Linked DNA regions of Homo sapiens: regions 2, 3 and 4 are each linked to region 1. Evidence: fine-mapped expression QTL. A gene starts in region 1. Each other region holds a variant in brackets. All regions are shown on one strand. Distances are between the middles of the regions. Region 1 holds the start of TMEM161B-DT (TMEM161B divergent transcript). Region 2 holds the start of LOC124900200 (small nucleolar RNA SNORA70). Region 3 overlaps TMEM161B-DT (TMEM161B divergent transcript). Region 4 has its middle 46 kb from the start of LINC02060.

Region 1 (7,802 bases):
CTAATATCCAGAATCTACAAGGAACTTAAACAAATTTACAAGAAAAAAACAACACCATCAAAAAGTAGGCGAAGGATATGAACAGACACTTCTCAAAAGAAGACATTTATGTGGCCAACAAACATGAAAAAAAGCTCATCGTCATTGGTCATTAGAGAAATACAAATCAAAACCACAATAAGATACCATCTCATGCCAGTTAGAATGACAATTATTAAAAAAGTCAGCAAACAACAGATGCTGGCGAGGCTGTGGAGAAATAGGAACGCTTTTACACTGCTGGTGGGAGGGTAAATTAGTTCAACCATTGTGGAAGACAGTGTGGTGATTCCTCAAGGATCTAGAACCAGAAATACCATTTGACCCAGCAATCCCATTACTGGGTATATACCCAAAGGACTATAAATCATTCTACTCTAAAGATACATGCACACACACGTATGTTTATTGCAGCACTATTTACAATAGCAAAGACTTGGAACCAACCCAAATACACATCAATGATAGACTGGATCACAAAAATGTGGCACATATACACCATGGAATACTATGCAGCCATAAAAAAGAATGAGTTCATGTCCTTTGCAGGGACATGGATGAAGCTGGAAGTCATCATTCTCAGCAAACTAACACAGGAACAGAAAACCAAACCATGTTCTCACTCATAAGTGGGAGTTAAACAATGAGAACACATGGACACAGAGGGGGTAACATCACACACTGCGGCCTGTCAGGGGGTGGGGGGCAAGGGGAGGGAGAGCATTAGGACAAATACCTAATACATACAGAGTTTAAAACATAGATGATGGGTTGATAAATCCAGCAAAACCACCATGGCACATGTATACCTATGTAACAAACCTGTATGTTCCGTACATGTATCCCAGAACTTAAAGTAAAATTTGAAAAAAAATTTAAAAATACAATTCTAAAACTTTATGCTACCCCAAATTATCAGCGCAGAGAAGTGTTTTTTATCAAGTATCACAGGTGATTCCTATGCAAACTCAAGCTTGAAAACTAGTATATTAACCCACTTTTCAAAACTCAGTTGAAGTCACCTACTACAGCAGTCCCCAACCTTTTTGGCCCCAGGGACTGGTTTCATGGAAGACGATTTTTTCACACATTGTGGAGGCAGTGTGGAGGAAGGATGGTTTCGGGATGAAATTGTTCCACCTCAGATCATCAGGCATTAGATTGTCATTTAAGGGTCACCTAACTCAGGTCCCTCACATGCACAGTTCACAACAGGGTTTGCGCTCCTATGAGAATATAATGCCACCACTGATCTGACAGGAGGTGGACCTCAGGCATTAATACTCACTTGCCCACCACTCACCTCCTGATGTGCAGCCCAGTTCCTAACAGGCCATGGACCAGTACAAGTCCACAGTCCCAGGGGTTGGGAACCTGTGACCTACTACATGACCCAACCTGCTCTCAGTTAGAAATAATTTCTTTCCACTGTACTCTTTGAGCCTATTATATGTGTTTCTCTTATAGCATTTACACACTCTTCCCAACACTCCCCTCCACTCCCCTCAAAAAGAAAACTTTTCATCAAATCCAATTGATTATGGCAAAGGTTTATAACCTCCCCATGGCCTACTCTCCCACACCTGCCCACAAACCATTGTTCAATTACAGCAGTAAGTTACTACAGGATGATACACAGATGCAAGCCGTGATATCTGCAATTCCAGGAGCTAGCTCTAATCTACCTATCTTCCACAAATTAGCTTGAATGGTAGAAAGATTTATATTTGATCAAAGTTGGTCTGTAATTTTCAAAAAGGAAAGTGCAATAGAGCAAATGGCTTTATTCCATTAGTAAATTTCCTATAGACTTGTCTTCACAACAACTTGAAAGCATAAAAATTAAGCGTGAGTTCAGTATTTTCAGTCTGGATCATAATCCTATTCTCCTTCATTCATAATACAAAAACCTTGTTATAGGCACAGGTATCTATTGAGTATCGGTATACATAATGTATGAGAGAATGAGAGCACAGAATTAGTTTATCATTGATTAAAACAAGAATTAAATCAAAACATTCCAAGAGTTGTGTTCCATTCTGGAGCAGTATTTAAGACAGTAGTGAAAGACTTGGCCAAATATACAAAGATTCCAAGTACTATCTATGTGACTTATGAAAAAAATGAAAAAGAGAATGATAAAAGAAATCAAACTTAAGCCAAAATGGCATGGAAACAAAACAGTGGAAATCAGACTAACTTTTATTTAATCTGAAACATGTAACTATCCTCAAAAATGTTGAGTAGTCATGGAATCATAAATTTAAGAAGGTGCTTTAATACCCATCAAGTCCCACTTCTCTTACCCAGGAGGAATTTGGAACTCTTATCAAAATTGAGTGACTTTTCCAAATCCATATAACTAACAATGGGCAGAATCTGGGTCCTCTGGGGTCAATACTAATGTTCTTTTCATAATATCATTAGGCCCCAGCAATGCAAAACAAGTTCTGATTTCAACAAGCTGAATCCTCAATAAATTCAGCCCATGTTCACTTCATTTAATGGTTAAACTCTTCCCTTTGAAAAATTCCAAGCATTAACCACACTTGCATATACAGACATTATCAATTTCATAGCTGGGAAAGATAAAACTCAGCCAAGATAATTAGCTCAGAAATATAAGCACTTCCAGAAGGAAAAGAGCCAACTAGTTAGTTCCAAAATGACATTCAGAAAAACAGCATAAGATTACATTAGTTCCAAACATTAACCATCTCTTTTGAACCGACAGGATAAGCAGGATTCTACTTCTAGTATTCCAAAACACTGAGAACAAGTTCATGTTCAGCTTTTCTGTGACTATGATGAACTTAAGTATTTTAATTATACTTTACCTTCAACTTTTCAGACCAAAAAGTCAAAAATTAATCTTAAATTTAAAAAATGAAAATATGAGTTTTAGTCCAGACTGCCAAACTACTGTTACTTTAGAAAAATCACTGTCAATTTCTAGACCCCAGATTCTTTCTTCTGTAAAAATGGGGATGGAAGAGTGATTACTAGGCTTTGGTTTCTCCCAGTTCTGTTTTCCCTATCCTTGTCTAATTTCACTGATACAAAAGAAAAACAACTTTCTTAATACAAACCATATTATTCACTGAGGCTTAAAAAAAAAAACTTTAAAGAGATAGGTTATCTGGTAAAGTGCACCAGGAACTACATTATTTTGAAGGTCTTTGTTCTACATTCAGCTAAGTTTCTAAAAGTCATTCAAAAGCCAATCACCACACACATTAACTGAATGTTGGCAATATTTGGCCCTGAAAATATAAGACAAACTGAAGCTAAATTCCAGGACAGAAGCCTCTGCAAGTGAGGGTTTGAAATCTTGTATACGGTGAAGAAACTGACAATAATGAACTTCACCAGAGCCCCGTGATCTTGAAAAACAGCAAAGGTTAAGAAACCCCTTGCCCCCGTTTGTGTTCTGAGAAATTGGCTTACTGCAAAGAATCATCTTTCCTGTAGAACTTAGATAAGACTAAGGGTTGATCCATACCCCCCTACCCCTTGTTTACCTATAACAAGGCCATAACTAGACCCTTCTAATTCCCATCCTTTGCTTCGTAAATGACTTGCTGAAGTACCTGTCCCACAGATCAATCGGAACAAAATACTTATTAACCAAACTTTAAGATTCTCTTCTCTCGGGTACCTGAATTTTGTCCTTCCCTCAGTCTGAAACAACATATACAAACCTCTCCTAACAGCTCCTCCTCAGAATACATGGGCTCAGGGTAAAACATTATCTGGTTACTGCCGGATCATACCCATATTTTCATCCCAATTCCTGACATCTTATTTACCCCTACCAACAAAAGACAAACCCTTTCTGCCTAACCTTTAAGGTGCATGCAAATCTTACGGTCATTCTCCCTACTGCAACAGTTCCTTCAACCTTCCTCCACACCCCTGCAATATTCCTTTCGAATAAAGTCTGTCCTTACTAAACTCGGGTTTTTTATTTGACACCCTTTTCAATTATGAAATGGCTAAGTGTAAAGAATAAGGGGACTACCGTTTCTTTAAATGACAGGTGTTGATCTTATACAAGGAGACCCGTTGTGTCCACCTGGAGAGGCTAAAAGCATTTCTAAGATCTGAAGTTCTTGGCCACTGTTCCGCGGATGGAGAAGGGGGCGCAGAAGAGGTGACTGACCCGGCAAGGTCAACTCTGGGATCACCTGGCGCCACAGGCCATACACAGTAAATGGGCCATGAACAGGCAGGCTACCCAGTCCATACTCCCTGACAGATACGCCCCTGCCTCCGGCCCGCTAGTCTCCCAGACAGGTAGGCGTAATGCTGCTTCCTCAGGGGCTCAGACACCCTGAGATAGGTGGTGGGTCCTACCCAGCAGCTCATCCCAACGTCTCAACTCCATTCTGAGCAGAGCACCTGATGGCTCTTTTCACAGTACTGACCTCCCCGCCCTTTTCGCCCCACCGTTGTCACTCCTGCCCTCACAGAAGAACTCACCATGGCGCCTAGGATAGGTCGTGGACCAGACACCCTGGAGTTGCCGGGGCAGTCCCAAACCTCTTACCTCCCGGTCCTTGAGCCGAGAGACTCTCAAACAGCGAAAGAGAGGGTCTTCCGGCTCTGCCGGAAGTTGTGCGCGCGCGGGACAGGAAGTTCCTCCCTTCTCCAGAGCGCCGTCGACCCCACGCCACGCAGAGGTGAAGATACGCAGGACGTCCTCTAAAGCAACTTCCGTGGGTGCCAGGTTGTGGGCTGGGGGCGGTGCTGACCTTGAGAGAGCGGAGGAGGCGCAGGCGCAGCACAGGTACGTGGGCGGGCGGATCGTGGTGGCTGCGCTTGCGAGGACCCTGAGGTAGATTGGGTGGTTTCAACAGGAACGCATCCACTGTCTGAGAGGTGACGGAGGCACACGTTGGTGTGGGGAGCGGGAGGGGAGAGGGAGGGGGGCGGGTGGGGGGCGGGAGGGGGCCAGGGGTGGGAGTGAGGGTGCGCGATGGGAGTCGACTCCAGACCCAGGTGATTTAGAGAGAGTAAAGACCACCTTTGGCCGTCATTTTGTCTCAGCTTAACTGACGCCCTCTTGTTACCCTCTAGTTTTCCTGACTCGGTCCCTTATTAGCATATCCTCATTTCCACAGACCTGTCCGTCTGTTGCTTCTGTTCCCTGCCTTAGTGGGTACCGTAGCTCTACCCTCCTTCCGGGCAATGGAATCTCATAGTGAGAAGTTTCTTCACTATTCACAGGTGGCAATTGAAGCCGGAAGAACATCTACCAAGAGCAGAGAACCCAGGAAGAAAATTCTGCCTCTTTAATACGTTCCAATATGGACGTTTTCCATATAGATACCTATCTATATAGATAGATGCTCTGGGATCTGACGGTCCTGGACACCTGTATGGCTGTGTGCTGTGGTCTTTGCCTAGCCTGCGGTTCACTTTTGCTCTGGCCACCACCTCCCCTCATGTACAAACCGCGTCTCTGCTCTGCCAGTCTTGGCCCCCGTCAGGCAGCGGTTCACTCCCTCACCAGGGAAGTCTAGATAGATAGATATAGATAGATATCGATCGATAGATATAGATATATATATAGATAGATAGATAGGTAGATATATGGATAGATATAGATATTTGGATAGATATGTAGACGTCTATCTATAAATATATCGATATATCGGGGTTCTCAGCCATCCCAAAGAAGCTTGCACAGGGCCAGTTGCTTTATGTCAGGAAAAGGGACACAGACTGAGTGTATGAGGGTTTTTTTTTTCTATAGATGTATAGATATTTATATCAGATGCAAATAAGTGAAACTCTCATACAACTTTTAATTTTGTGTTTTTTCCAAACTCTATTCCATTCAACTTTTTCTGCCTTTTTATTTGATTATAATGAGACATCGTACTGGAGGCAGGCTTGAAATGGATATACAGAGCACTTTCAACCCAGAAATTTGTCTCACGACTTGGGGTCCTTACTTAAGTTGTAGCTGTTAGTAATTTCATCCATGAATTCACTTTGTGCCATAGTGTGATGTTTTGTTATGAAGTTGGAATTGGGAAGGGAAACTAGGAAGTTTTGGGAGAAGTTAAGAAGGTTGAGTAGGCAGGCGTTGTTATAGATATTAAATTTCACCCTGCTTATCAAAGTACCTGGAGCGTATGGTATCCAAGCTGTAAATGGCCCAAAGGAATCGGGGTTCTCAGCCATCCAAAAGAAGCATGCACAGGGCCAGTTATTTTATGTCAGGAAAGGGGACACAGACTGAGTGTATGAGGGTTTTTTTTTTTGTTTTTTTTTTTTAGTTTAAACTTGATTTTGTGAGGGGACGAACAGCGTGACAATTAAAAGAAGATCTGGGAATCGTAAGTACTGACAGAATACCTGGAGGGAAGGTGGGACTGGAGAATAGTTTGTGAAACAGATCCTGCTGAGGATGAATCCAGAACTTCCTGAAGGGTTCCGCTTCTGCTGTGTAGGGACAAGGTTGTAAATAGACAAGCCACAGGCACCTGCAAATGGTAAGTGTGGTAGAGAGGGGCTGGAATTGCCTGTTGGTGTATCTGTGGGAAGCAGCTGCTATCCTTGAGGAAGAAAAGATGGAGAAGGTAAGTGGCTATCAACCTGTCAGAGACAACACATTCTGTGAAGTTGTACTCTTTCATTTCTGACACTGTGGTTCTTAATATCTGTCCTAAACCTGGCAGTCATTGAGGTTCGCAAAGTATCTCCTTCTATGTGACAGTAAAACTGGAATTACTATCAGAATGGAATCCATTCCTGCTAGAGTAAAACCATGAAAAGAAATCGCAGTTTTGATTATCTGCTTATCATTTTTAATAGATCACAGAGTGCAGTGTTCCTTATTTGTTGTATGGCAAGTTGATGAATAACTCTTGATTAATATCTTTTAATGTTCTGTTTCACACAGTTCTCTCAATTACATGTGAAAAATCTGTTATATAAGTAATGCTATTTAATGATTAAAATGGATATATGTTTTAAGGTAGTGCCACCCAGTCTTTTTTTTTTGGTAGAATAATATTATTATCTATTGGTTGCCTGCCTTGAAGTACAGTAATTTCTCTGTTTCCATTATTTAAAATAGGTGAGTGTCTTTGACAAAGATACAAAGAAAGGGGACAGTTATGAAAGGGAAGAAAAGATAGATGGAGATGAAAAGAAATTCAGTAGTTTCAGCAAGGGAATTAGGAGCATAATCTTTGAGAAAAGTCTTGGTTGCTTACCATTCGGGCTTTGTGATGAGTTGAAATGTCCTGAATGAGAACTGTTCTCAAATGCTTTCAAGACCAACAAAAAGTACGATACCCACACTGACCTGGAACTCTTTAAACCATTAAGATATATCACTTTTTCGCAGTTCAGTCCATATTTTTTGCAAAATGTTCTGCTTAGTTTTTCTGCTAAGAAATTACTGTTTCTGAACAAGGTTAAGTGTCGTATGCTTTCATTGTAGTTTTTTTTCCCCTAACATATACTGTTTTCCTAATTAGACTATAAATTCCTCCACAGCTGGGACCTTGTTTTGTTTTCTCGCCTTCCCCATAACAAATATCATTTAAGTGAATGTTGTAAACAGTTACTTCATTTAAATTGCCCTTAAAATGCTTTATGACAAAGACGTTATTTGTAGTAATACCTATAATGGTAAAAAGTTTGTTGCAGTCTTACAGACGATAAGATTGATCAATTGTTATATATGCTTAGTGGAATTTTATCTAGCTGTTCTAAAGAGCCATTAGACTAGTCTTTCTAATGGA
Region 2 (7,802 bases), 120 kb after region 1:
CCACCAAGCCTGGCCTCACATTTTGAATCTATCTTTCTTTTATCTCGTCTTTCTCCCAGCATGAAAAAGGTTCAGATTTTAAGGACTCATACGATTAGATTAGGCCCACCTAATCCACGATAATTTTCCCATCTCAAAGTCCATACCCTCACATCTGCAAAGCCTTTATTTTATTTTATTTTATTTTATTTTATTTTATTTTATTTTATTTTATTTTATTTTATTTTTTGAGACAGAGTCTCACTCTTTTGCTCAGGCTGGAGTGCAGTGGCGCAATCTAGGCTCACTGCAAGCTCCCTGTCCTGGGTTCAAGCAATTCTTGTGACTCAGCCTCACAAGTAGCTAGAATTACAGGCATGCCCCACCATGCACGGCTAATTTTAGTATTTTTATTAGAGACGGGGTTTTGCCATATTGGTCATGCTGGTTTCAAACTCCTGGCCTCGAGTGATCCGCCAACCTCAACCTCCGAAAATACTGGGATTACAGGTGTGAGCCACCGCGCCCAGCCTACTTTTATTTTTAAAGACAGGGGTCTTTCTATGTTGTCCAGGTTTGTCTCAAACTCCTGAACTCAAGTGATCCTTTCACCTCAACTGGGACTACAAGTGTGTGCCACTGTGGCCAGCTAAAGACTCTGGCCATTTAAGGTAACTATTCTCAGGTTCTGAGAGAATAGTGCACAGACATCTTCAGGAGTCAGGATTCTGCCTACCACTGTAACCTTTTCTGTCTTCACTGTTTTATCCCCATTCTCAAATGATGCCTGCCACACACTCAATAAATACTGATGGGATGAAGGAACCTAGATAATAGCAAAGTTGCATCAGCTTCTCTGTGCTCTCTGTGCCTTACACTCAGTCGGACTTCTCTGGGGCCAAGTCTGGTAGTAGAGGGGGATGTTTAAAAGGCAAAATTCTATTAACAGCTTGTTGGGAGAAAAGATGACTGTTGGGAGAGAAGCTGAGGCAGGGCTTGCATGTCTGCTAGACTTGCTGGTTCCTTGCTTCTAGCACTCCTGTTATCTCAAGCAGCCATATGTTTCTCATTCACTTGATACACTGTTTCCTTTCAACCCCCACGTCCTGACCACCTGTTTGTTTGAGCACCAGTAAATAGCGTGGGCTCCCAGAGCTTGGGGCCTTTGCAGCCTTCACACTTGTGATGGCCCCCTGGTCCCACTTTCTCTCTCAAACTGTGTTTTTCTCAATCCTTTGATTCTGCTGGACTTCTTCACCCCCACGACCTGGTGTTGGGTCTGATCACCCCAACAACAGCCCATATGGGGGATGGCTGGCAGGGATGCTTCACCCAGAATCATTTTGACCTGGAATGCTGGGTCTCATATTTTCTACTTGTCCTGGCCATCCAAGCCCATATCATTGGCAGGCAGATGTAGATCATAGAAAAATCCTTGGAAACTTGGGGGTCCCAGTAATGAATGGGAATCTGAGACAGACCAATCACACTCTTACAAACCAATTCAAGGTACTCTGAATTCAACTAAACCATGGCACTGTGACTGCTCAGACAACTGAACATGTGTATTCAGTATATTCCCCAACAAAACCCTGTAAAACATCCTCGTGCATGTGCCGAAGTGTGTGGGTGGACTGAGACCACACAATTATCATGGCATCTCTTCCCAGAAAGTCAATTTGAATACTAGCAAGTATTTTAAAGGGCATTGCTTAAATGTAAGACAAACATGAGGTCAGGTGCAGTGGCTCATGTCTGTAATCCTAGCACCTGGGGAGGCTGAGGTTTATGGATCACTCAAGGCCAGGAGTTCAAGACCAGCCTGGACAACATGGAGAAACCTTGTCTGTACAATAAATACAAAAAAAAATTAACCTGGCATGGTGGTGAGTGCCTGTAGTCCCAGCTACTTGGGAGGCTGAGGTGGGAGGATGCTTGAGCTGGGAGGTTGAGGCTGCAGTGATTCCTAATGGCACCACTGCACTCCAGCCTGGGCGACAGAGCGAGACCCTGTCTGAAAACAAAAATGAAAACAATAAAAAACATGAACCTGTTATGGGGTAGTATATAATAATTGCTTAAATTTTTAAGGAAAACAACCACAAGATTTTAAAGGCATTTCAAACTTCCTGCCTTGACTTACCCTCAACAGTTCTCTTGTTCCCTACCATCACTGGTATAATTCTGTTGTTGGAGTTTTGCCACTCAAAACTTTCTCCTGTACTACCAGTTAGGGATGCTTTGGTAGAAAATGTTTTTTAAAAAAACTGTTCTAAACCTACCTAAAATATCAGCTATCTGGCTCATGATATGGTCTGATATAGAACAGACAGAAAGACTGTCCTATGTCAGACCATATCATGAGCCAGTACATATAGGAACATATAACAGTCTTTCTATCTTTCTGGGGCTAGAATGATCACTCATGAAAGATTACTAAGAAGTGATATTTTGCAGACCTTATTCAAGGTTGATAAAATCCAAATTCTTGCCTTTTGGGTCTCTGAACAGCACCATGGTGGCTGGCAAGAATAAGCGTTTTATGAAAGGTGGCTAAAAGGAAGCCAAGAAGAAAGGGGTTGATCCATTTTCTAAGAAAGACTGGTATCACGTGAAAGCACCTGCTATGGTCAGTATAAGGAGTATTGGAAAGACACTAGGATTCAAGGAACAAGAATTGCACCTGATGACCTTAAGGGTCATGTGTTTGAAGTGGGTCTTGCTGATCTGCAGAATAATGAAGTTGCATTTAGAATAAACTAGCTGATTACTGAAGATGTTCAGGGCAAAAACTGCCTGACTAACTTCCATGGCATGGATCTTACCCATGACAAAATGTGTTCCATGGTCAAAAAATGGTAGACCATGACTGAAGCTCATGTCAATGTCAAGACTACCGATGGTTATTTGCTTGGTCAGTTCTGTATTGATTTTATAGAAAATGCAACAATCAGATACAGAAGACCTCTTATGCTCAGCACCAACAGGTCTGTCAAATTCAGAAGGAGATGATGGAAATCATAAACACAGAAGTGCAGACAAACGACTTCAAAAAAGTGTTCAATAAATTGATTCCAGACAACATTGGAAAAGACATAGAAAATGCTTGCCAATCTATTTATCCTCTTCATGATGTATTCATTAGAAAAGTAAAAATGCTGAAGAAACCCAAGTTTGAATTGGGAAAACTAATAGAGTTTCATGATGAAGTTAGTTGTTCTGGAAAAGCTACTGGGGACAAGACAGGTGCTAAC[G/A]TTGAATGAGCTGATGGATATGAGCCACAAGTCCAAGAATCTGTTTAAAGTTTGATTTTAATAGTGGCAAATAAAAAAGCCTATCTGTCTGCAGCCAATTGAGTTGACCGAGCTCTTTTCCTCCTGGGGGCTTGGTGTGCAATGGCTGCAAACAGCAGATTCCTTGGTAGTGTATGCAGCCTGCTTCTTGTATGGGTTGCCTCTAAGGGACCTTGAAGGCAGCCCTTTCCAGTGTATGTTCATGTCTCTGACCTTATGCTGTCCCAGTGTAGGCTGTAGAGAGGTGTGCAAGCTGCCTTTGGAAAGTTTCAGAGTATCATAGCCTGGGTTCATATTGGCCAAGTCATCAGGTCCATCTGCACCAAGCAGAACAAGGAGCATGTGATTGAGGCCCTACACAGTGCCAAGTTCAAGTTCCTGGCTGCCAGAAGATCCACATCTCAAAGAAGTGGTGCTTTATCAAGTTCAATTTGAATGAAGTTGGAGACATGGTGGCTGAGAAGTAGCTCATCCCAGATGACTGTGGAGTCAAATACATCCCCAATTGTGACTCTCTGGACAAATGACAAGCTCTGTACTCATGAAGTCTTCCACTGTGTGGCCATCTCCTAATGCCAACCAATAAATCCTATCCATAAAAAAAAGAGTTCTATTTGTGGGGAAAAAAAATCCAAATTCTTTAATAAGGTTTCTAACTTCACAGATTCCTGAGTCAATGAATTTGACACCAAGATCCTTATGCAATAAGAAAGCAATGTTTCCTTGGTCACTCTTCTCCTACCTTTCTCTAGACACCCAAACCCCTAAGGTAACCATGAGCTTTTCATGGTGGCATCATTCCATGGAATTCTCAGGTCTCTAATCTAGTTCCGGACAGTAAATGAGTACTCGATATTTGTTGGCATTGCATTCTGGGACACCCTCCCCACATTCTTCATGTTCTAAAATGACCTTTCGCTTTTTTATTGTTCTTTCTCTGTTTTCTGCCCTGCAACCTCACCATGAACAATAAAACTGAGCTGTCACTAACTAATATCCTCCCATAACAGAGAGCCAAGAAAATTGATTATTCATTTAAAGTAATTCTTACTAAAATATGAATGGCCAGAAAGTATATTAGCTTATATTTTGAAAGTAGAAAAGATATTCAAATTATTTCATTCAATATGGTAGGAATTACATCTGTTTTGTTCCTTCTCAGATCTCTAATCCAGTGCCTGACAGGAAATGAATACTTGATATTTGTTGGTTGACTCGGAGAATATTTGGAGATGGTAGCTTTGAGTAAGGAAGGTATCTTAGTAGTCAAGTTTTTCTTTCACTGCCTATGTTTTTACTTATTTTGGCAGACATACAAATAAGGCCAATAGTTTTGTAGTGTTGATTGTTTTCACTACTTATAGCTAAAGATTTCCCTCATCTATGTTGTTGCATAATTTTAAATATATGTTAGGGTTTTGCTTTTTGGGGGAATGAATGTTTTGACTTAGAAATTTCTCTTCCTGCAAAAGATGTTTTAAAATTTTTCTTCTAGACCTGTTTGGACATACCCTAATAAAAGAATAAGCTCACAAGTGGAGAATTCTAATGCAATTCTCTATAGCATTTAACACATGGCAAGTGATCAATAAACACTGGCTGAAATAATTTTTTTTTTTTTTTTTTTTTGTGACAGAGTCTCACTCTTTTGCCCAGGCTGGAGTGCAGTGGTGTGATCTTGGCTCACTGCAACCTCCGCCTCCCAGGTTCAGGTGATTCTCCTGCCTCAGTCTCCTGAGTAGATGGGATTACAGGCACCTACCACCATGCTCAGCTAATTTTTGTATTGTAAGTAGAGACGGGGTTTCACCATGTTGGCCAGGCTGGTCTAGAACTCCTGACCTCAGGTAATCCTCACAGCTTGGCCTCCAAAAGTGCTGAGATTACAGGCATGAGACACCGCGTCCAGCTGAAATGAATTTGAAAGGCAATGTGGTAAGATCCAGAGCCTAAAATAAAACTCCAGGTTCTCAATCCAGACTCAGCCAATTGTGTGATCGAGTTCAAGTCATTTAACTACTTTGATGAGTGGTTTTCTCCCATTATTTCCGCATCCTGCTCCAAGCCCACTAACCTGTGAGGCTTAAGATCTTCAATTAAAGTTGTACTAAATTGTTTTTCAAGAAGATAAAAATGTCAACAATGGTACAAATTATACAGGCTATAATTGTTACACTTCCAGAAGGAGATTTAAGATGCAATACATAAAATATCAGCTACGTGGTTGCAATGAGCAATGATAGAATTTAATTTTGTTATATTTTCTGATGAGCTCATCCATGTTCTAGGTAAAAGCTAGACACAGAAAATAACATGGCCTCATGCTTAAGGGGAAATGTGTAATAGTGCCCACTGGGGAAATGGAACAATCAAGACGTGGCTCTAACAGTGACCTTGCTTGCCAGGCCTTTCCTGCCCACGTTCTCCTTCCTTTGGTCATCTTCTTCTTCTGGGAGTATACTTTCACTGGCAAGGAGTATAAAAAGCTATTACAAAAAGAAACCGGTAAAGTAATAAAATACTGACCCAGTGGGCAAGGGAATGAATTCTATCACTACAGAATGGTGTGTGGGAAAATATGTACAGGCAGGAGATGAATAAAAAGAGGCACTGTGCCTGTTACGAACTTGAACAGGAATTTTTAAAAACCCTATCATCTCACTTTTTCCCTGCTTTATTTTTCTGAATATACCTGACAGCTCAGAATTCCTCAGTGACTCTTTTTAAAAATTTCACATATTTTTGGTTCATCTTTTTTCCCTCCCTTTCGCAGTTTTTAAGCTCTCATCCTAACTTAAAAAATAAAAATTAAAAATAAAAAAGAATCACAGGGCTGGAGCTGGCATGTAACTCTTTGTCAGAGGATCCTCAACTTCTCTGCATTTGTGTCTCTTTATCTGTATAGTGGGCATAATAATACCTGTCTCAACTATGAAACAAGAACATGTGGCTAGCAAGTGGGAGGACATGGGCAAAAATTAACCTCTTCAGTGGCGTCATCACTATCTCTCCTCTCAAATCTCTCCTCAACTAGGTATAAGACTAGTTGCATGCCTCCAGGGCCCATGTCTTTTCATACTTTTCTATGGCCACATCCTCTTACTTGCCCACCCTGTAAATATTATTTTGTCTGTGCTGCCATCCCATTTTATTTTTTCTGTTTCTCTCCTGTTTTTAGTTCAAATGAACTAATAGCTTGTCAGTATTTACAGTCTATTTATCAATAACTTTTTAAAGCCACGTATAATTCCATTCCTGTGTGAAATTAAAATGGCTATTCTAATTCTTTCTTAAATTGGAACCATGTGAAATTTTCTTTAAAACCTATTAATCATATTTACATCATATTTTTTAAAATTAAGCTTTCTTATTAATCACATTTACAAATAGGAAAACTTGATTTTAATGTTCTTATATATTCACTATAGTTACTGATTTCCTCTTTGCTCTAACTGCCCTCTTTTGAAATTGCCCCTAAAAAAACACCTTTGGTGTTTATACACATAGAGTAGGATAAGTAGAACCAATTCCCCAAACTCCTAAAAATTTCTGTAGGAAACATATTTCCTTCACACTGTCCACACCAACTCAGTACTATGAAAACATTTTTTTCCTTTCATCTCTACAATGTGAAGAAAAAATAAAAATTAAAAGTTTGGTTCCCACATTACTTCAAGAATATAATTTTTTCTGTTAGATAAGGATCCCAAAATACTTCCTACAACATAGCCCCTACTGTTCCTTGTTTAGTCCAGACTATTGTTTTAAAGAAAGCAAATTAAACAAAGCTATTGGTGACAATGGACTGGAGTTCTCTGATGCAAAATTATAGATCTCAGGAGATATTTCAAATATGTCTTACCTAGTTGCTATTTATCATCAAACATACCCAAATGTTTGTAGTGTGTGAATATTTTAAAACAAACCTAGCATAGTGTCTGAGTACAGAGTTAAGTCAATAGTTTGGAAACATCCGTTTGTTTCTTTATATGCATTTAGCTACTGCTATACCTTTTTCAATGAATGAAGCAGACCTGAGCACACACAATAAAAGAAAGCAAAAATTACCAGGTTTGGACTTCACTTCACAGCTGGAAAGATTCTGTTGAGGCTGCCAGCAGGGGATCTTGCGTATTAATACCCTACCTGGAAGAGCTGACATGTTGGAAATGAGATTAACACCTTCCTGTTTTTACATTAACTAAGGCTAAAGTGTCATTTGCCTTATTGGGAGAAAAAAATTTAATACTGAGATGATGGGGTTGCAAACAAGGTATGGTTTTAAGAAAATGTTAAACTATGAGGTAGGGTTTTTGTGGTGGTGGTGGTGATCCTTTCAAGATAAATACCTGTACAAATAAAAGCCAAAACTATCAGGACAACTCAAAAGCTGAACATAAACACATGTAGCACAACAACTCCTTTTCAGGCCAATGCTAATTGATACGGTAAATAACTTGTCAGACTGCTTAAAAAATAAAAATAAATGAATACACTATGTCAAAGAGTACTGATGCTTAGGTATTTGTT
Region 3 (7,802 bases), 51 kb after region 1:
AGGCTTTAATGATCTGTCCCCTCTGCCTTTGGTGTTCACTCTGCTTTGGCCACTGGGACCTTCTCAGTCCTCAATTCACCAAACACACTCCTGGATTAGGGTCTTTATACTTACTGTTCACTCTGCCTGAAATGTTCTTCCCTCAGATGAGCACTTGGCATGCTCACATACTTCTTTCAGGTCTTTGTTCAAATGTCACCTCCTCAGAGAGGCTTTTGCTGACAAACCTATTCAAAATTGCATCCTCTGGCCCCACTTTACACTCTAATTCCTTACACTGCTTTATTTTATTCTTCATAGTACTTATCATCATTATCAAGCATGTATCACTTATTGTTTATTTGCTTGCTTCTTGTCTGTTTTCCTTACAAGATTGAAATCTTCATGAAGGTAGGGACTCTGTTTTGTTCACTATGTTATCCTTAGTGCTAAAAACAGTGCCTGGCACCTAGTAGGCACTTTTTACTTAATATCTAAATCAATACATATATGAATGAGTGAATGAATGAATGAATGAGTGAATGAAAAACTCCAAGTCTACTCTCAACTTTGCAGGAATTCTTTTTCGAGTATCAGTCTGATCCTGTCTGGCTTCTATCTTTTGTGCTTTTATAGATTCCTTAAAATTCTAGTCTGCCAATAGTACCTATTCTGATTTAAGTAAAGTTATGAGATTCATTTTGTTTTTAATTTTTTCTGAGGAATATTTTTTTCTGAAGAGATAAGCAGATTGATGAGCTCATCTTGATCTTTGTCAGTATATTTAAATCATTGGTTAGGATAATTTTTAACATGTTAAACTTTAGGGCTCAGAGACTCTTTAACTTCCTCATGTTACAGATTTTAAAATGAGACTCAGAGAAGTGATTCAGTTTACCCAAATCCCCCTACAAAACACAGCTCTAAATAAATACTAATTCTGTGCCTCTGCAAAATATTGTGCAGGCTCACTTGCGAGGCATGCAGGAAACTCAACAACTGTCAGAAAGAAAGCTCGGAAATGGCAGAAGGATCTCAGAAATAATCTTAGCTGTAAGGACTGGCCTCAAAGACGGTGGCACCATTTGAATCATAGGGCTTAGCAAACTCAAGGTGATGTCTTGCCTCAAGAGACTTCAATCAGTTGATAGGTGAATTGCAGCAATGGAAATCTCCAGTGTGGTCATTTTTCATTAGGACAGGGGGAAGAATCTTGGTTCTGGGAAATCTACCACGTGATGAGGAATTAGAGATTCAAGAGACAAGATTTGGGCCCTGAATGAGGGGTTGGCAAGGGTTACACAGTTCAGTCATGATCGAATCAGGAGCTTATCTTAACCCAGAGATTCCTTTCTAGTGATAATCGCTCTTTCAACCAATAAAAATATGTTTAAATCTATCTATGACCTGGAAGCCCTCCCATCCCACCCCTTGCTACCTCCAGTTGTCCTGCTCTTCCATATTGAACCAATGTAAATCTTACATGTATTAATTAATGTATTATGTATCCCTAAATATATATAAAAGCAAGCTGTGGCCAGGCGTAGTGGGTCACACCCTGTAATCCCAGCACTTTAGGAGGCTGAGGCAGGTGGATCACCTGAGGTCAGGAATTTGAGACCAGCCTGGCCAACACAGTGAAACCCCGTCTCTACTAAAAACACAAAAATTAGCTGGGCGTGGTTGTGCACACCTATAAACCCAGCTACTCAGGAGGCTGAGGCAGGAGAATCACTTGAACCTGGGAAGCGAAGGCTGCAGTGAGCTGAGATCGCGCCACTGCACTCCAGCCTGGGAGACAGAGCAAGATTCCACCTCAAAGAAAAAAAAGAAAAGCATGCTGTAACCTTACCACCTTGGGCACATGTCACCAGGATCTCCTGAGGCTACATTCTTAACCATGGCAAAATAAACTTTCTAAATTGACTGAGACCTGTCTCAGATATTTTGGGTTCAGGAGTAGTATAGAACACTAGAAGTTATTCCTCCTATCTAACTGTAATTTTGTATCCTTTAATAAATCTCTCCCTATCTCCTCCTTCCCATCTTTCCCAGCCTCTAACAGCCCCCGTTCTATTAGGTTGGTGCAAAACCTGTTTTATTAGGTTTGCACCAACCCAAAATCAACTATTTTACACTTCCACAAATGAATGAGAGCATGCGATGTTTATTTAATTTTCTGTTACTGGCTTATTTCATGTAACATAATGTCCTTTCGTTCATCCATATTGCCGCAAATAACAGTATTTCATTCTTTTTTTATGGTAGAATAGTATTCTATTGTGTTTATATAACATATTTTCTTTATGCATTCACCTGTTGTTGGACACCTAGGTTGATTTTATGTTTTGGTTATTGCAAATAGTGTTGCAATAAACATGAGGGTGCAGATGTCTCTTTGATATACCAATTCCCTTTCCTTTGGGTAGGTGCCCAGTAGTGGGAATGCTAGATCAAATGGCAGTTCTATTTGGAGTGTTTTTAGGAATCTACATACCGTTCCCATAGTAGCTGTACTAGTTTACATTCCCATAAGCAGTGTATAAGAGTTTCCTTTTCTCCACATCTTCATCAGCATTTGCTATTTTTCACCTTTTTGATAATCACCATCCTTACTGGGATGAGATAATACCTCATTGTCGTTTTGATTTGCATTTCCCTAGTGATTAATGATGTTGAGGTTTTTTTCATACATTTATTGGAGATTTGTATGTCTTCTTTTGAAAAATGTTTGTTCATAGCTTGTAGGCCTTTTGCCTGAGATCAAGTGAGAAACGTCTGTTCAGATCACCTACCCATTTTACAATGAGATTGCTTCCTACGGTTGAGATATTTGAGTTCATTGTATATCCTGGATATTAATCCCCTGTCAGATGAATAGTTTGCAAATATTTTCTCTCATTCTGTAGGTTATCTTTTCAATCTGTTGATTGCTTCCTTGGCTGTGCAGAAGCTCTTTGGTTTGATATAACCCCATTTGTTTATTTTTGCTTTCATGGCCTATGTTTTTGAGGTCTTATTCACAAAATCTTTTCCCACACCAACGTCCTAAAGTGTTTCCTTTTTTTTTTTCTAGTAGTTTATAGTTTTGGATCTTACATTTAGGTCTTGGGTCCATTTTGAATTGATTTTTTTAATAGAGTGAGAGGTGGGGGTTTAGTTTCATTCTTCTGCATATGGACATCCAGTTTCCCCAGCACCATTTATTATAGAGACTATCCTTTCCCTAATGTATGTTCTTGGTGTCTTTGTCAAAAATCAATTGGCTGTAAATGTGAGGATTAATATCTGGGTTCTCTATTCTGTTACATTGGTCTATGTGTCTGTTTTTATGCCAGTACCATGCTGTTTTGCTACTACAGCTTTGTAGTATATTTTTATTCTTTTTGCTCAGGATTGCTTTGGCTCTTCAGGGTCTTTTGTGGTTCCATACAAATTTTAAGGCTTATTTGTTCAGCCAGGCCTAGCGGCTCACACCTGTAATCAATCCCAGCACTTTAGGAGGCCAGCGTGGGAGGATCAGTTGAGCCCTGGAATTCAATACCAGCTTGAGCAACATAGTGAGACCCTGTCTCTACAAAAAGAAGAAGAAGGAGGAGGAGGAGGAATAGAAGGAGAAGAAGGAAGAAAGAAAAAAAAGAAAAAGAATTTCTTCTAATCCTATGAAGAACATCATTGGCATTTTGATATTAAATCCATAGATCACTTGGGGTAGTAATAAGCAGCATGTTAAGTGTGTACCTTTTTGTTTGTTTGTTTGTTTGTTTTTCTGAGACGGGGTCTCACTTTGTCACCCAGGCTGGAGTGCAGCAGCATGATCTGAGCTCACTGCAGTCTTGACCTCCTGGGTTCAAACGTCCTCCAACCTCAGCCTCCTGAGTAGCTGGGACTATAGGCACACATCACCACACCTGGCTAATGTTTTTCTTTTTTTTTC[T/C]TTTTTTTTTTTTTTCCTGTGATGGAGTCTGTCTCACTTTGTTGCCTAAGCTGGAGTGCAATGGCATGACCTCAGCTCACTGCAAACTCCACCTCCTGGGCTCAAGCCATCCTCCCTCCTCAGCCTCCCAAGTAGCTAGAACTACAGGCATGCACCACCATGCCTGGCCAATTTTTGTATTTTTAGTAGAGATGGGGTTTCACCATGTTGCCCAGGCTGGTCTCAACTGGGCTCAAGTGATCCTCGGCCTCCCAAAGTGCTGGGATTATAGACACAAGCCACTGCACCTGGCATGATTTTTTTTTTTAAACAAGAGAAAATTATCTTTAAAATTAACAGTTAAGGTGAAGTTTAAAAGAGTATTTGTCATCCTAATAATGCTTCTTGGTGTTTTTCTTCAATAGGAGCCTTTCTTGTCCTCTCATTTTTCACATTAGATGAGATCTAAACACACATCAAAACTGGGATGCAGTAATAGGTGAGGAAAAACCAATGTCTTTCACTGTACCCAGGCATTAAATTTGATCCCTAGCATGCCTGGAAAGGGACAGTTTTCCTACTGACTTCCTGATATGTACCTAAACTGCATGGGATCTCATCCTTTTTTGTAAAGAGCAATAAAATATTTCATTTAATACAAGAACACCTTTCATCCAGCCTCATTCAATTTTCTAGGTTAATTTTTGCTTTCCATTCTTCCAGGATGCTTAAAATAAGAAGAGTAAATTCCAAAACCAGCTCTGTTCATACTAGAGCAAGGCTGAGCAAAGCATTGCTGACTACGTGCACAGTGTCAGGAGCCAAGCAAACTCTTCAGCCCTCATTTTCTGGGGACCAAAAGCAGCTTCTGTGTTCTTGCCCTAGGGCTCACCCTTAGTGCCTTCTAGGTAAGACTGCCTTGGCTTCCCTCTGCTAATCAGGGAAAAGGTGATTGGATAGAGTCATGTTTCACCTGAAGTATTTTGGCCCCTTATCTGAACCAGTCATTACATCTTAAGGCAGTTGTAACTAGGCTGCTATAATGATCTGACAAAAGACCTATTCCTCCAACATTACCAGTCATTAACTTTCCAAGACAAGATGTGACATGCCACAGCCCTCAGATAGTTCATCCAGAAGGAGTCTCTTCTTGACAAATATAATCCCTCTTCACCTTTGTTCATGACAATTTTATTTCTTCCACGGTGTCAAACTACCAATTTTTCCAAGTCAGCATTCCCTAGTTAGACCAAGGGACTTTTTCCACTTCAAAGGGAGGTGCTGCTATCTTTTCACTTTTGATTGTTCCTTACTTTAATCGTCTTTCCTAAAATAGTAGTTTTAAGTGGATATATATTTAAAGTAGCAAAGCCTGATGCCTTATTTTTGCTGCAAATTTTGCAGTTCTATGTATAAAAACTTGCTTTAATCATATGTCACTACGTCATGTTCAGTATGCACAAATAAAAACTTATTCTCCAGATATGATGTCAGAATGAATAAAAACTAACAATTGGGATATTTGCCTAAAAGTAAAAAAGAAGCAGGACACTTGGTGTATACTCTTTAGTTCTTAACTTTATTTGAGTAACTTTGCCTACCCTGAAAATTATAAAATAATGTCTTTTGTAAAAATAGGACCATTGCTTCAAAGTATCTCTCTTTTCCCCTTCAGTGGCTAAATCCATACAAAGCTATAAAGTTGATAATCAAAATTGAAAACAAGTAGTTCTCTCTAAAGTTAGAACTGCAGTTCCCTTGGAGGGTCTCATTAGATAGAATCCAGGTGCAACTCTCTGCAACATAGTGTTAGATTCTGAACAGAAGTAAAATAGAGCATGATTCCTTGACTTAAAATGTAACTAAGCAAAGAACACAAGAGTACAGAGGAAACTAAGCTGGTAGAGTCAGGGGAAAGATAAGTGACAGAGAGCCTGATGGCCTTGCAGTAGTCTGAGATGGCAACTTGAAGAATGGTCAAGGAAAGGCATTCAAAGTCTAGTTCCAGAACTGACTGAATGGAATCAAGAAAAGTGGACTGGGCAATTGCCAGATGCTGTCTGAAGGCATAAGGGTATGGACTCTTGTATTGGACCTGGATTCTCTCCAGATAACCTTCTCTAGATTATATAATCTCTGGATTTTAGAATGGCAAAGTTCAACGAGTTTATCCAGGGTTAGTTTAAGATGAAAAATAAAAGAAAAGAGAAAAAACTAAGAAACGTAGAAAGGGTAGTAACCTCAACATCTTGTTTAATAAAGAAGGAACTCTTATCTCTCTTGAAGTCATTCACATTGGGTCTACCGTAGGATTTCTCTGCATAGTAATGAGAGCTGAATGAACGAACTCTGAAGAATTAAAAGAGATCAAGTGCTAAGATCTCAGTGATGGGCGGTACCTAAAGAGGTGAGGCTAAGAGGAGAAAGAAAATCCCCTGGGGGAGATAGAGAGTAAGGGTCAATGAATATAGGGGAGTAAACTCATAAATAGCATTTAAAATTTATTATTAGCCTGTAGGTAACTTTTAATTCTTCAGTTACAGAGAAAACCCCCATTTTGAGGTTACAAGGATTTTCTTTTCTTAAAAGTGTTATTAGATGTGTCCTACTCCCCCTGTATATATAATTTTTAAAAATAATAGTCTGGATTATGAGCTGAAAAGTCTAGTTATTACCATGTAACTGTTTTATGCAATGTGATATAATTATTTACTAATTGTTCCATATTCTCTCATTTTTGTTTTTTCTCTCTTAATTTGATCTTCAGTACCTCCAAGGTTGTACCATATGCAATGCTTACAGGCCTCAACTCTGAAGGCTATTAGAGCTGAGTATAATTCTTAGCCTCTCTTATCTGTGTGGCCTTGATCTAATTACTAATCTAAGTTTCAGTTTCCTTGTGTATAAAATGGGAATAATAAGAATATCTTTCTCATAGGGTTGTGCCAAGGAATAAATAATGTAAAATGAATAAAATAATGTAACATAAGTAAAATATTTCCAGTTTGTGATAAACAGCACAGCATTTAAGTTTGCTGATAAAGGCTTGTCTACCTTATTTTCTCCTATCGTATGTGCACCTTTTGTTTTTGTTTGTTTTTTTGAGACAGGGTCTCGCTCTGTCACCCAGGCTGGAGTGCAGTGGCACATTCTTGGCTCACTGCAACCTCCGCCACCCTGGCTCAAGCCATCCTTCCACCTCAGCTTCACAAGTAGCTGGGACCACAGGTGCCCACCACCACACCCAGCTAATTTTTTGTATTTTTGGTAGAGATGGAGTTTCACCGTGTTGCCCAGGCTGGTCTTGAACTCCTGAGCTCAAACGATCAACCCACCTCAGCCTCCCAAAGCTCTGGGATTATAGGCATTACCACTGCACCCAGCCTATATGTGCCTTTAACTCCATTGTAGAATGCATATTGTGTAGAGTGTATTCTATTTTTTATTATCACATCATGTGAAAAGTTCAGGACTAATTTTAACAAAATTTGACGTTATGTTTATTATGGTCTGACTGAAACTAAAGATTCCAAAATGCAAATAATCCCTCAGGGCAGCTGAAACTAAAGCACAACATGTATGACTACTCTTAGAAGAGGCGTGCCATAAGCAACAAGACACAATGGAAGGGAATAAACAAGCAGTGGTTTCTGAGGGTCAGGGACTCCAAGTGGCAGTTAATTTGAATTGACTGCTTCCCACTTGGGTAACTCTAGGTATATACTCCAGAGGAATTAGTAGCAGGAAATTCATTCTTTTTTAATATAAATTTCTTTTGATAACAATGTATTCGTTATGAGGACATGAGCATGGGAAAGAAAAGCTAAGATGTTAAACAGATGAAAATATTTACATAACTTCAAATAGTTGCAAATACAAAGCCAAGGAGAAGTAGATTGAATTACAT
Region 4 (7,802 bases), 220 kb after region 1:
ACAGAATTAGCTAATGAAACAAACATTAATAATCACTTGAGTTCAAATTTTAATTTTGGATTTAGAAAAGCTTAGCATATTTTGAAATATTCCAAAATGGAACTTTAAATAGAATCTTGTCAGACTCAGTGAGTAATTTTAGTGACCAATGAGGGGGAAAATGGTTATTTACACAATACTTAGGTTCTTTGAAATAATTACACATTTTAAAATAATTCTGCAGAATAAGAAAAACTTACCTCTTTAGCAAACAAAAAAGGAAATTTTACATTTTATTTTTTAAAAGTTTCTGTCCTGTACATTAATTAAAATATTCTAATTTAAAATACAAAATAGCAATAGGGACAAACTGTTGGCCATAAATGGCTTTTAAATGTTAATTGACAAATATGTTAATAATCCCCTGGAGCATATAACAGTTTTCTTTAAGAGAACTTTACATAAGAAAGATAACTTGAAGCTTTCAAAGAGGACCAGTGTTTGATATAAGTATTAGCTGTGAAACTGATATTATTAATGATTCAATTTTGACCCAGCCAAATTACATTATTTGTATTATGAACCAATCTAAGAATTTACAAAGTTTTATCTATCCTAATTTTTCTAACATTTATAACTATGTATAGTCAGTATGAACCTGGATAAAGCTTTGAAATAGCAGAAATGTATCACCACAAGCAACTTTTATATGTTCCCATAAAGTTTATGTTTTATCTTTGAAAAGCTTCTGCTGTTTAATAAGATTTAGCTTCTTACTTTTAATCTCATATTACAGTTGCAAAAACAAAAAGAAGAAGAAAGATCTAGTACTGCTCTGCATGTTGCAGTGTTGTACATCACTTCCTCCAATAAGTAAACAAGATTCTCAAAGAGCACTTGAGAGGACATACTAACCGTGTAGTATTGTTGGCCACACAGAACTTTAAATAAGCAAATGGATTGTGGTTTTAAAACACCACATTTTATTAGAAGAAAAGAAAGACTAATAGACACTTTTTGTATGTGTTCGTTCAACAATTTTAAAGGAATTTAAAATTGTGTAACTTATTTTCAACTTTCATGTTGCCTATCAATTGTTATATTATTAATAGATGTCATTAAGATGACCAGTTTCTGCTTTCTATGGCTATAGTAGGACTTCACAAGTACTAATTACTTAAAAAGAGAACAATAAGATGTTCTTTATGTTATATGAGAGACTCGGTAGGTATTTGGAAGATTACTTTTAACATTACAGCTTTTAATGGTATTTTATATTCATTGTACTTTTTTGCTTTGTTTTGTTTTATTTTTTGTTTCTTTTTTATTGCCTTCAAATGAAATTTTACTATGCATTGCAGTCTAAAAAGCTAAATTTTCCTTACAATGATGAACACAGGTTTTCTTAATCATAACAAATTAGTGTCCTATAATGAGGAGGGAATAGTGATTAAAACCTTTAAACTTGTATTTCAAAAGAGAAGAAAAAATACATGGATTATTCAGAATGGGCTATTTAGTTCTATGTATCAAACTTAGCAAGAATGAAAGTCTGTCCCATGATTAATTTTACCAACTCAGGTAATGGAGAACATTCTAACAATGGAGATAGCTTAAACTTTAAACACTTTTAACAGACAAAATAATGTGCAATCATGTCTCTGTGCATCTTGTAAAAAAAAACATGCACAGTATTTTCATTTGGAAAGTTTTTCCTCTGTGCAGTTATAGCAAGGTCCCAACACAAGTCAGTTTACATGTTTTGATTTCCACTGAGTTGTTTGTTTGAATGAATGTATCAGCAATTGGCAAAATTATCAAAACATTTATCTAGTGAGTTGCATAAACTTTGTTTAAAATAATGCGTAAAGTTTCACAGATTAGGGAAAAAAAAGTGTATTTTATTATAGCCAAGATTGAACTGACATATTAAACTAAAATAGTTTAAATTTTGTGCAACTTTAGAAATTATCTTATTCTAAATCTCACGGCAAAGAATAATCTGGGGGAGCAGGAAAGGGAATGAGGTTAGTACATTGATAAGGGTAAAAACCTAGCTGACACACAGATTACAAATGACAAGATTTTGCAACAATCTTGCATCTGGATCTATACAAAAAATTGCATGAGAAAATAAAGACTTGTTTCTAGTGTTTCCAAACAGATCTTTCTAAATTTAAGCTATAAAAGGCTGTTTCACCTCAGGCCTGCATGAGAACCACTGCTGTCCCTTGTGGGGACTACCTTATTTCCATTTTCCAGACACATGTTTTCCCCTTTCTCAACTATTTTAAGAATTATAAGTAAGCAGGACTCTAAAATTCAAGTTCAGTGTGCAGAGAGTTAATTTAAATATGATAACAAATGGCTCTGCTTTTGAAATGAATGTAGCCTGGCAACTTCAACTGGGAACCCTTCGGAGGGCCTCAATTATGTATGCGGTTTCTTTGAGAAATAGTTTCACACATCTGACCCAAGGACCAGTATGTTGTTGCCATGAAATAAAACTGTACGTAGGCATTGTTTCATTGCTGCACCCTCCACACACTGCCGGCCTCCACTCCCTTCCCCCACCCTGCACATGCATGTACACACACATACACACACTCACACAAACTCTTTTATTGTCATTCCGCTTCTATTTTTCTAGTAGAGTGAATGTATCAACGTAATTATCATGAACATAATGGCCCGTGATTACTTTTATTTGCTATAAAAATATTCTGATTCTAACTGCCAAACTGTTCCGGTCAAAATCAGGAGTGGGAAACCTACAAGATAAGTAAAGGGTTAAACCACCCACACCATTTCAATTTTTTTCAAAATGGCTGCTTTGTCTGTGTGCATACACCAATAGCAAATGTCCTTCTGTTATTGTACAGCCAATTTGATGTGTCAAGTATTCATATGCTAATAACGGTACAGTTTCTCACTTTTTCACAGATAAATGGTAAAGATTGTTACAGACAGTGAAACACAAGAATAAACAGCTTTTATTTCAGACGCGATAAATTACTTTCCATTCAAATAACATGCGACACACGCTGCTGACCATTTTGTTTCTATTCACTGTTAGTTTGCCTTCTGGGTGTGTTTTTTTAGAATAGTTTGAAAATATTTAACAGATATGGACAGAGTTGTTACTAATGACTTGATTGCATTAATTTGCTTTGTAGTCATTTCATCACTCGAAGTTCATTTTTATGCTCAGTTATTACAGTGGGAGAAAGTTTGATGGAAAATCTGACACTGTTTCCCTAACATGGTACAATCAAGTCTTTTTAAAGCTTGGTAATGACAGTATTTGAAGAATGGATATCTTCCCTTCCAGGTTAGCAGAAATGTCATTCAGTAAATAAAATCCCTTGCTAAGAGTATCACCTAAAAAAAGACACTTGAATGAAATGTACGTTGTTCTGTCAGAACAAAGTGAAATCACTTTGGTTTTCTAAGACATAAATATGTCCTTTTAGAAACCCTGAGTAGGTTAAATATATATGATTAAAGCATACACTTATTGCTAGGGTAGACAAATTAATGCAAAGATGAGGGTGGGGGAGGGGACTGAAGTATGAGAGAGAATTAACCAGTCCTTAAAGAAATATTTTTAAAATAATGTACCCATGAACATGCATGCACTGATGACAGTTATAAATCAAAAGAAACATTTCTGATTTATTTCTCCTCAATTTAACAAGATGCACTTATCTGTTCTTGAGTTGCAATACTTTTAGGGACAAAAATTAGAATACCTAGAAATTAAGCTAATGATTCTTCTAGCTACTTCTTACATTCACCTTATTGTGCCTAAATCTTTTGTCTGAGCTTTACATATGACCATTTTTTGGTTTATGTTTGG[TC/T]CCCTCTGATTGTTACATATACTTGAATTGCTTGCTTGGATGGGGAGCATACAAAATAATTAAGTAAACATGAAGAAAAGTAGCTTGATTCGTTGCTAGGCTGAAGGATCACATAGAAAAGTTTTTTTCCAATTGCCCAAAATTAAGTACAAATACACACATGCACTTCCATATACTCAGATGCAGACAAAATCAAACTAGAGAATTTTTAGAAGCACTACCCTGGATCATGCCTTAAGACATTAAGGATTCCAAAGGTAACTATGACATTAGGTCAATGAGGCTGCAGCTCCCTAATAGTGTAATCAGCAGATTGTAAATTTTTACATAATTCTAGGACAAAAGCTAGCTATTTTGAAGCAGTCTTATAATCTGAGGCCTTTTCTCTGAGCTCCAAAATACCAGAGAAGATTATTGTATCATATCAATGAGGAATAGTAAATGCAAGTGACCAGTTTTATATTAAACATGGACAATCAAGAGATTTTTCTACTATAAGGCTACACAAATAAGCTCATAAAACTTATTACCCTTTCTTCCTCTCTAACGCCATTGTTAAAAATACAAATTAATAGGATCAACTTCAAATATCTATTTTAAATTCTGCCTTTTATATATGTTATTTTTTTTTCTACAGGAAGAGTAGTTAATGGCAGATGAAATACTAATTTTTACTTTATGGGACACCCATCAAAAAGTGACTGTAAGCTAATTTATCAAAATTGAAATAAAGTAGGACACCAGTAGCTATTTCAAGAATTAATTTAAAATGTGCTATATGCCACACATGCTGCATTACTCAGAATGTGTTATTAATTTAAATGTTTCTTAACTAATTATAAAGACTAAATGGAGAACTTTTGCCCGTTGTTTCTTTTCTTCCCCCATCTAGTCTCTTTATCTGTGTAAATACAATTAGGCCTCACTCAGAGCTCTGGGTCTTTGTCTTTCCCCTTTTAATTCCTGTCCTTAGTGTAATTAGCACCTTGGGCACAATCGTAGGAATACACACAGGGAGTTTATTTTCACTGACTATTTTGATATTGCTTCTATCACTTTACCCTCGAACACCATTTTCATTTGCTCTGGGAACTTTCTAAGTACAGAGGTTTAAATCACTAACTCAAATTTTATACTGTGGACAGACAGTTATACATGGATATACAGGACCTGTTCAGAACATGTCAGCTGCACATGATATTTGATCTTTCGTCATACACTCATGCCCATGAACTCCAGGCACACTTATCTGGGTTAAAGCAGTGGCATTCTACCTTCACTCACAAATGTTTAATTATAACTGAGGTTTCAATTAAAAATAAATACAATAGAGTGCCAGAATGCCGAGGGGCTGCGAATGGGCTGGAGGAAACAAGGATTAGAAACAAGGCTTTTGTCTTCTTGCCTCAAAAGGTACAGGTTTTAGGTGTATATTATGAAACATCCTGAAATGTACATTGACTGACTAATTTTCAGGTAAGAATTGTAGTTTTCTTTTTCAAGAAGTATGAGAATTATTAGTGTTTTGAGTTTTTGAGTTACTTATACACAACTTTTCTAATTCATTTATACTCTGTGCCAAAAGTTTTCGGCCTGTTATTTAAAGGGAAAAGTATTCCATAGACAGTGTGAGCAAGATTTGAAGGGATGGTTAAGTGCCACACAGTCACTGAGTTTCTCAATTCCACCAGTAAAATTATGTTCAAGAACTGAGGATGCACTCTCTGCTTTGAATTGCCTACATCTGTCTGCGGCTACCAGCTGAATGGGATAGTGTGACACGCTCACTTCTTTTTCTTATAATCAAATCAACCATGAGGTGTTTCATGATATTTTGGTGTAAATGACCACAAAAATAAATTTTACATACTCATGTTGTCTTGGGTTTTCGCAGAGGTCACAGTGTTTCTGAGTATGGTGTCAATATATAGTTTAGGCTATTATTAAACATACAAAGGAAAATGGAGACTCAAGGCAATGATCAAAATAAATCATATGGAAAAACCTTACCTTAGACCTAAAGTATCGCATATTTTAAGCAAGGAACTTATTTCACCTTTATCTAGAAATCGATTTAATTTTGAATTCTATTTCTCCACAGGCTCTATATTACTAAAATATGATGAAATTGTGAATGTTTAATTATAAATTATGTCTCAAACAAATGAAATGCAGTGTGAATTTTAGTCTCTGAATATTAAGATAAGAAAACATTACCATTAAGACTGAGTCTACATGTTACATGAAACAAAGAATTGAAGCATTATTTGAATCTTGAAAGCACCAAATATACAGGGGCCCCAAGTTATCTGGATAAAGCTCCTACATATTCACTTCATTTGTGTAGATGCAGCCTGACTGCCTGCATCTAAATGGAATCAATTTAGATTCCAAGTGGTTTGAGGTTTATTAAACACAGTGAACTTAGCAAACATGCATTCCCCTCAAGCTTTCAGGTTGGTATTTTCTGCAACCATGTTTGAAGAAGCAAAATCCAGACCTCTCGTAGGCATAGAGGCAAGAGATCGGGTTCCTGTGCTGCTCTTCGCCATATATAAAAACTGATGGTTTTGGTGATGTGGGCCATAACATGAAAGTCATGTTTTTTCTACTATTTAGTCAAAGGAATGATGGGTACTGTGAGTCAACAACAAGCACGGCTACAAAAGAGAGCAGGATTAATGAAAAGAGGATACAGGACTTGTCTGATTGCTCCCACAATGATGCACCACCCTGGATAGCTCATTAGGGTACTCAGAAGAGCACAAAGAGTCTTTTAAATAAAGCTTCCTTGTTCCAAGAGTGTATTCATCACCTCATGCCTATCCAGGATAGGAGGGCTTTCTCCTTGGAGTCTGAATGAAGCAACCTGTAATCAGTTGTATGGAGATGTTGCTAAACATATTTGTAACCTCAAAGAAGTCTTCATTCACCGGAACAGGGACAACCTCAGAAGAAATGGATTTTTTCCCAAGGGTACCATTTCTATTTAGCATGTTAGTACCTTTGTAACCTATTGGATGGAGGACACTGTGGGAAAAGCCTGGAGAGACTTCCCCCTTTACAAATAAAAAAGAAATCTAAAGGAATAGGAGCCTTGTGACAACAAAAAAGAAAAGAACAAAAGTGACTCATGTATGTCAAATGGAGCAGGCACCTAACTAAGCAATAATTAGAACTTTGCCCACAATTCTCTCAGACGAGGCAGTCACAGGCTGGATTTTGGCATAGGGTGTTAATGTGTGAAAGTAGAAGTTGTCTCAAATAGAAGAAAAGCCTAGGAACATAAGGCAGAGCATCGTGACTGCATTATAGTAAAGGCAACAGGGCCTCTTTAGTTAGATGAACTATACTCAGTTGTGTCTTGGCTGTGCTGCTTTCTTCTTTTAAGTTTGAAGTTAAAATGCTACAGGATTAGTCTTACCTGCCACAGAGAACAATGTGGCTAAAATGACGCAAGCCAGGAGAGCTTTCCTGAATGAATGATGCTGTGCTCAATTTACAATAGCTAGAAAATAACAGTAATTATTATAGATTGAGGGGAAAACAGTCTGTAGAATTGTGTTGCAAAGTTGTAAACTTTATGCGGCTAGCAAAAATTCCTGCAAAGGTTTTCAAGTTAAAGTGAAAATAAAAGACTTAAATCATTAGAGTGGTCTTGCGCTCTGGATCTCACATGTTTTCACATGTGAGAAATCTCAAATGATAAAGTATGTACTTTTGCAAAAGCATCCTGTAGATTTAATTGTAAACTAAGTTTAGCAATGTTTTGGGGGGCTGGCTGCCCCAAAGTACAGTGACAGACTAATCAATCCTTCTTTCTTCATTGTTGAAACTCAGCTAATGAATAGTGAGCCAGAGCAAACAGCGAGTGAGAACGCTTGATGAGGACACAGAATGTAGATACATACACTTTATAAATCATCTTTAGATTGAAGACATTTTACAAATATTGTCATTAAA

Evidence for each region. PIP is the estimated chance that this variant, and not a neighbour inherited with it, causes the effect. A credible set is the group of variants that fine-mapping cannot tell apart.
Region 2: its variant is the best candidate, but not a certain one, in a credible set for the expression of TMEM161B-DT in whole blood (INTERVAL, PIP 0.79).
Region 3: its variant is the best candidate, but not a certain one, in a credible set for the expression of TMEM161B-DT in whole blood (INTERVAL, PIP 0.52).
Region 4: its variant is the best candidate, but not a certain one, in a credible set for the expression of TMEM161B-DT in nasal epithelium (TOPMed, PIP 0.65).

What each region holds. Positions count from the first base shown.
Region 1 is chr5:88,264,200-88,272,001 of GRCh38, forward strand. It overlaps TMEM161B-DT (TMEM161B divergent transcript), which reads left to right and starts at 4,683. Exons shown (of 3, transcript NR_039995.1): 1 at 4,683-4,828; 2 at 6,327-6,386. It overlaps TMEM161B (transmembrane protein 161B), which reads right to left and starts at 4,646. Exons shown (of 12, transcript NM_153354.5): 1 at 4,522-4,646. The coding sequence starts at 4,524. RefSeq lists enhancers at 4,433-4,932, 4,623-4,812.
Region 2 is chr5:88,379,451-88,387,252 of GRCh38, forward strand. All of the region lies in intron 2 of TMEM161B-DT (TMEM161B divergent transcript), which reads left to right. It overlaps LOC124900200 (small nucleolar RNA SNORA70), which reads left to right and starts at 3,322; the gene lies at 3,322-3,457. It also overlaps the pseudogene RPS3AP22. The variant G/A (reference allele first, on the strand shown) is at 3,234.
Region 3 is chr5:88,315,032-88,322,833 of GRCh38, forward strand. All of the region lies in intron 2 of TMEM161B-DT (TMEM161B divergent transcript), which reads left to right. Among named protein-coding and RNA genes, the nearest start is that of TMEM161B-DT, 50 kb to the left of the region's middle. The variant T/C (reference allele first, on the strand shown) is at 3,917.
Region 4 is chr5:88,481,688-88,489,489 of GRCh38, forward strand. No RefSeq gene overlaps it. Among named protein-coding and RNA genes, the nearest start is that of LINC02060, 46 kb to the left of the region's middle. The variant TC/T (reference allele first, on the strand shown) is at 3,839.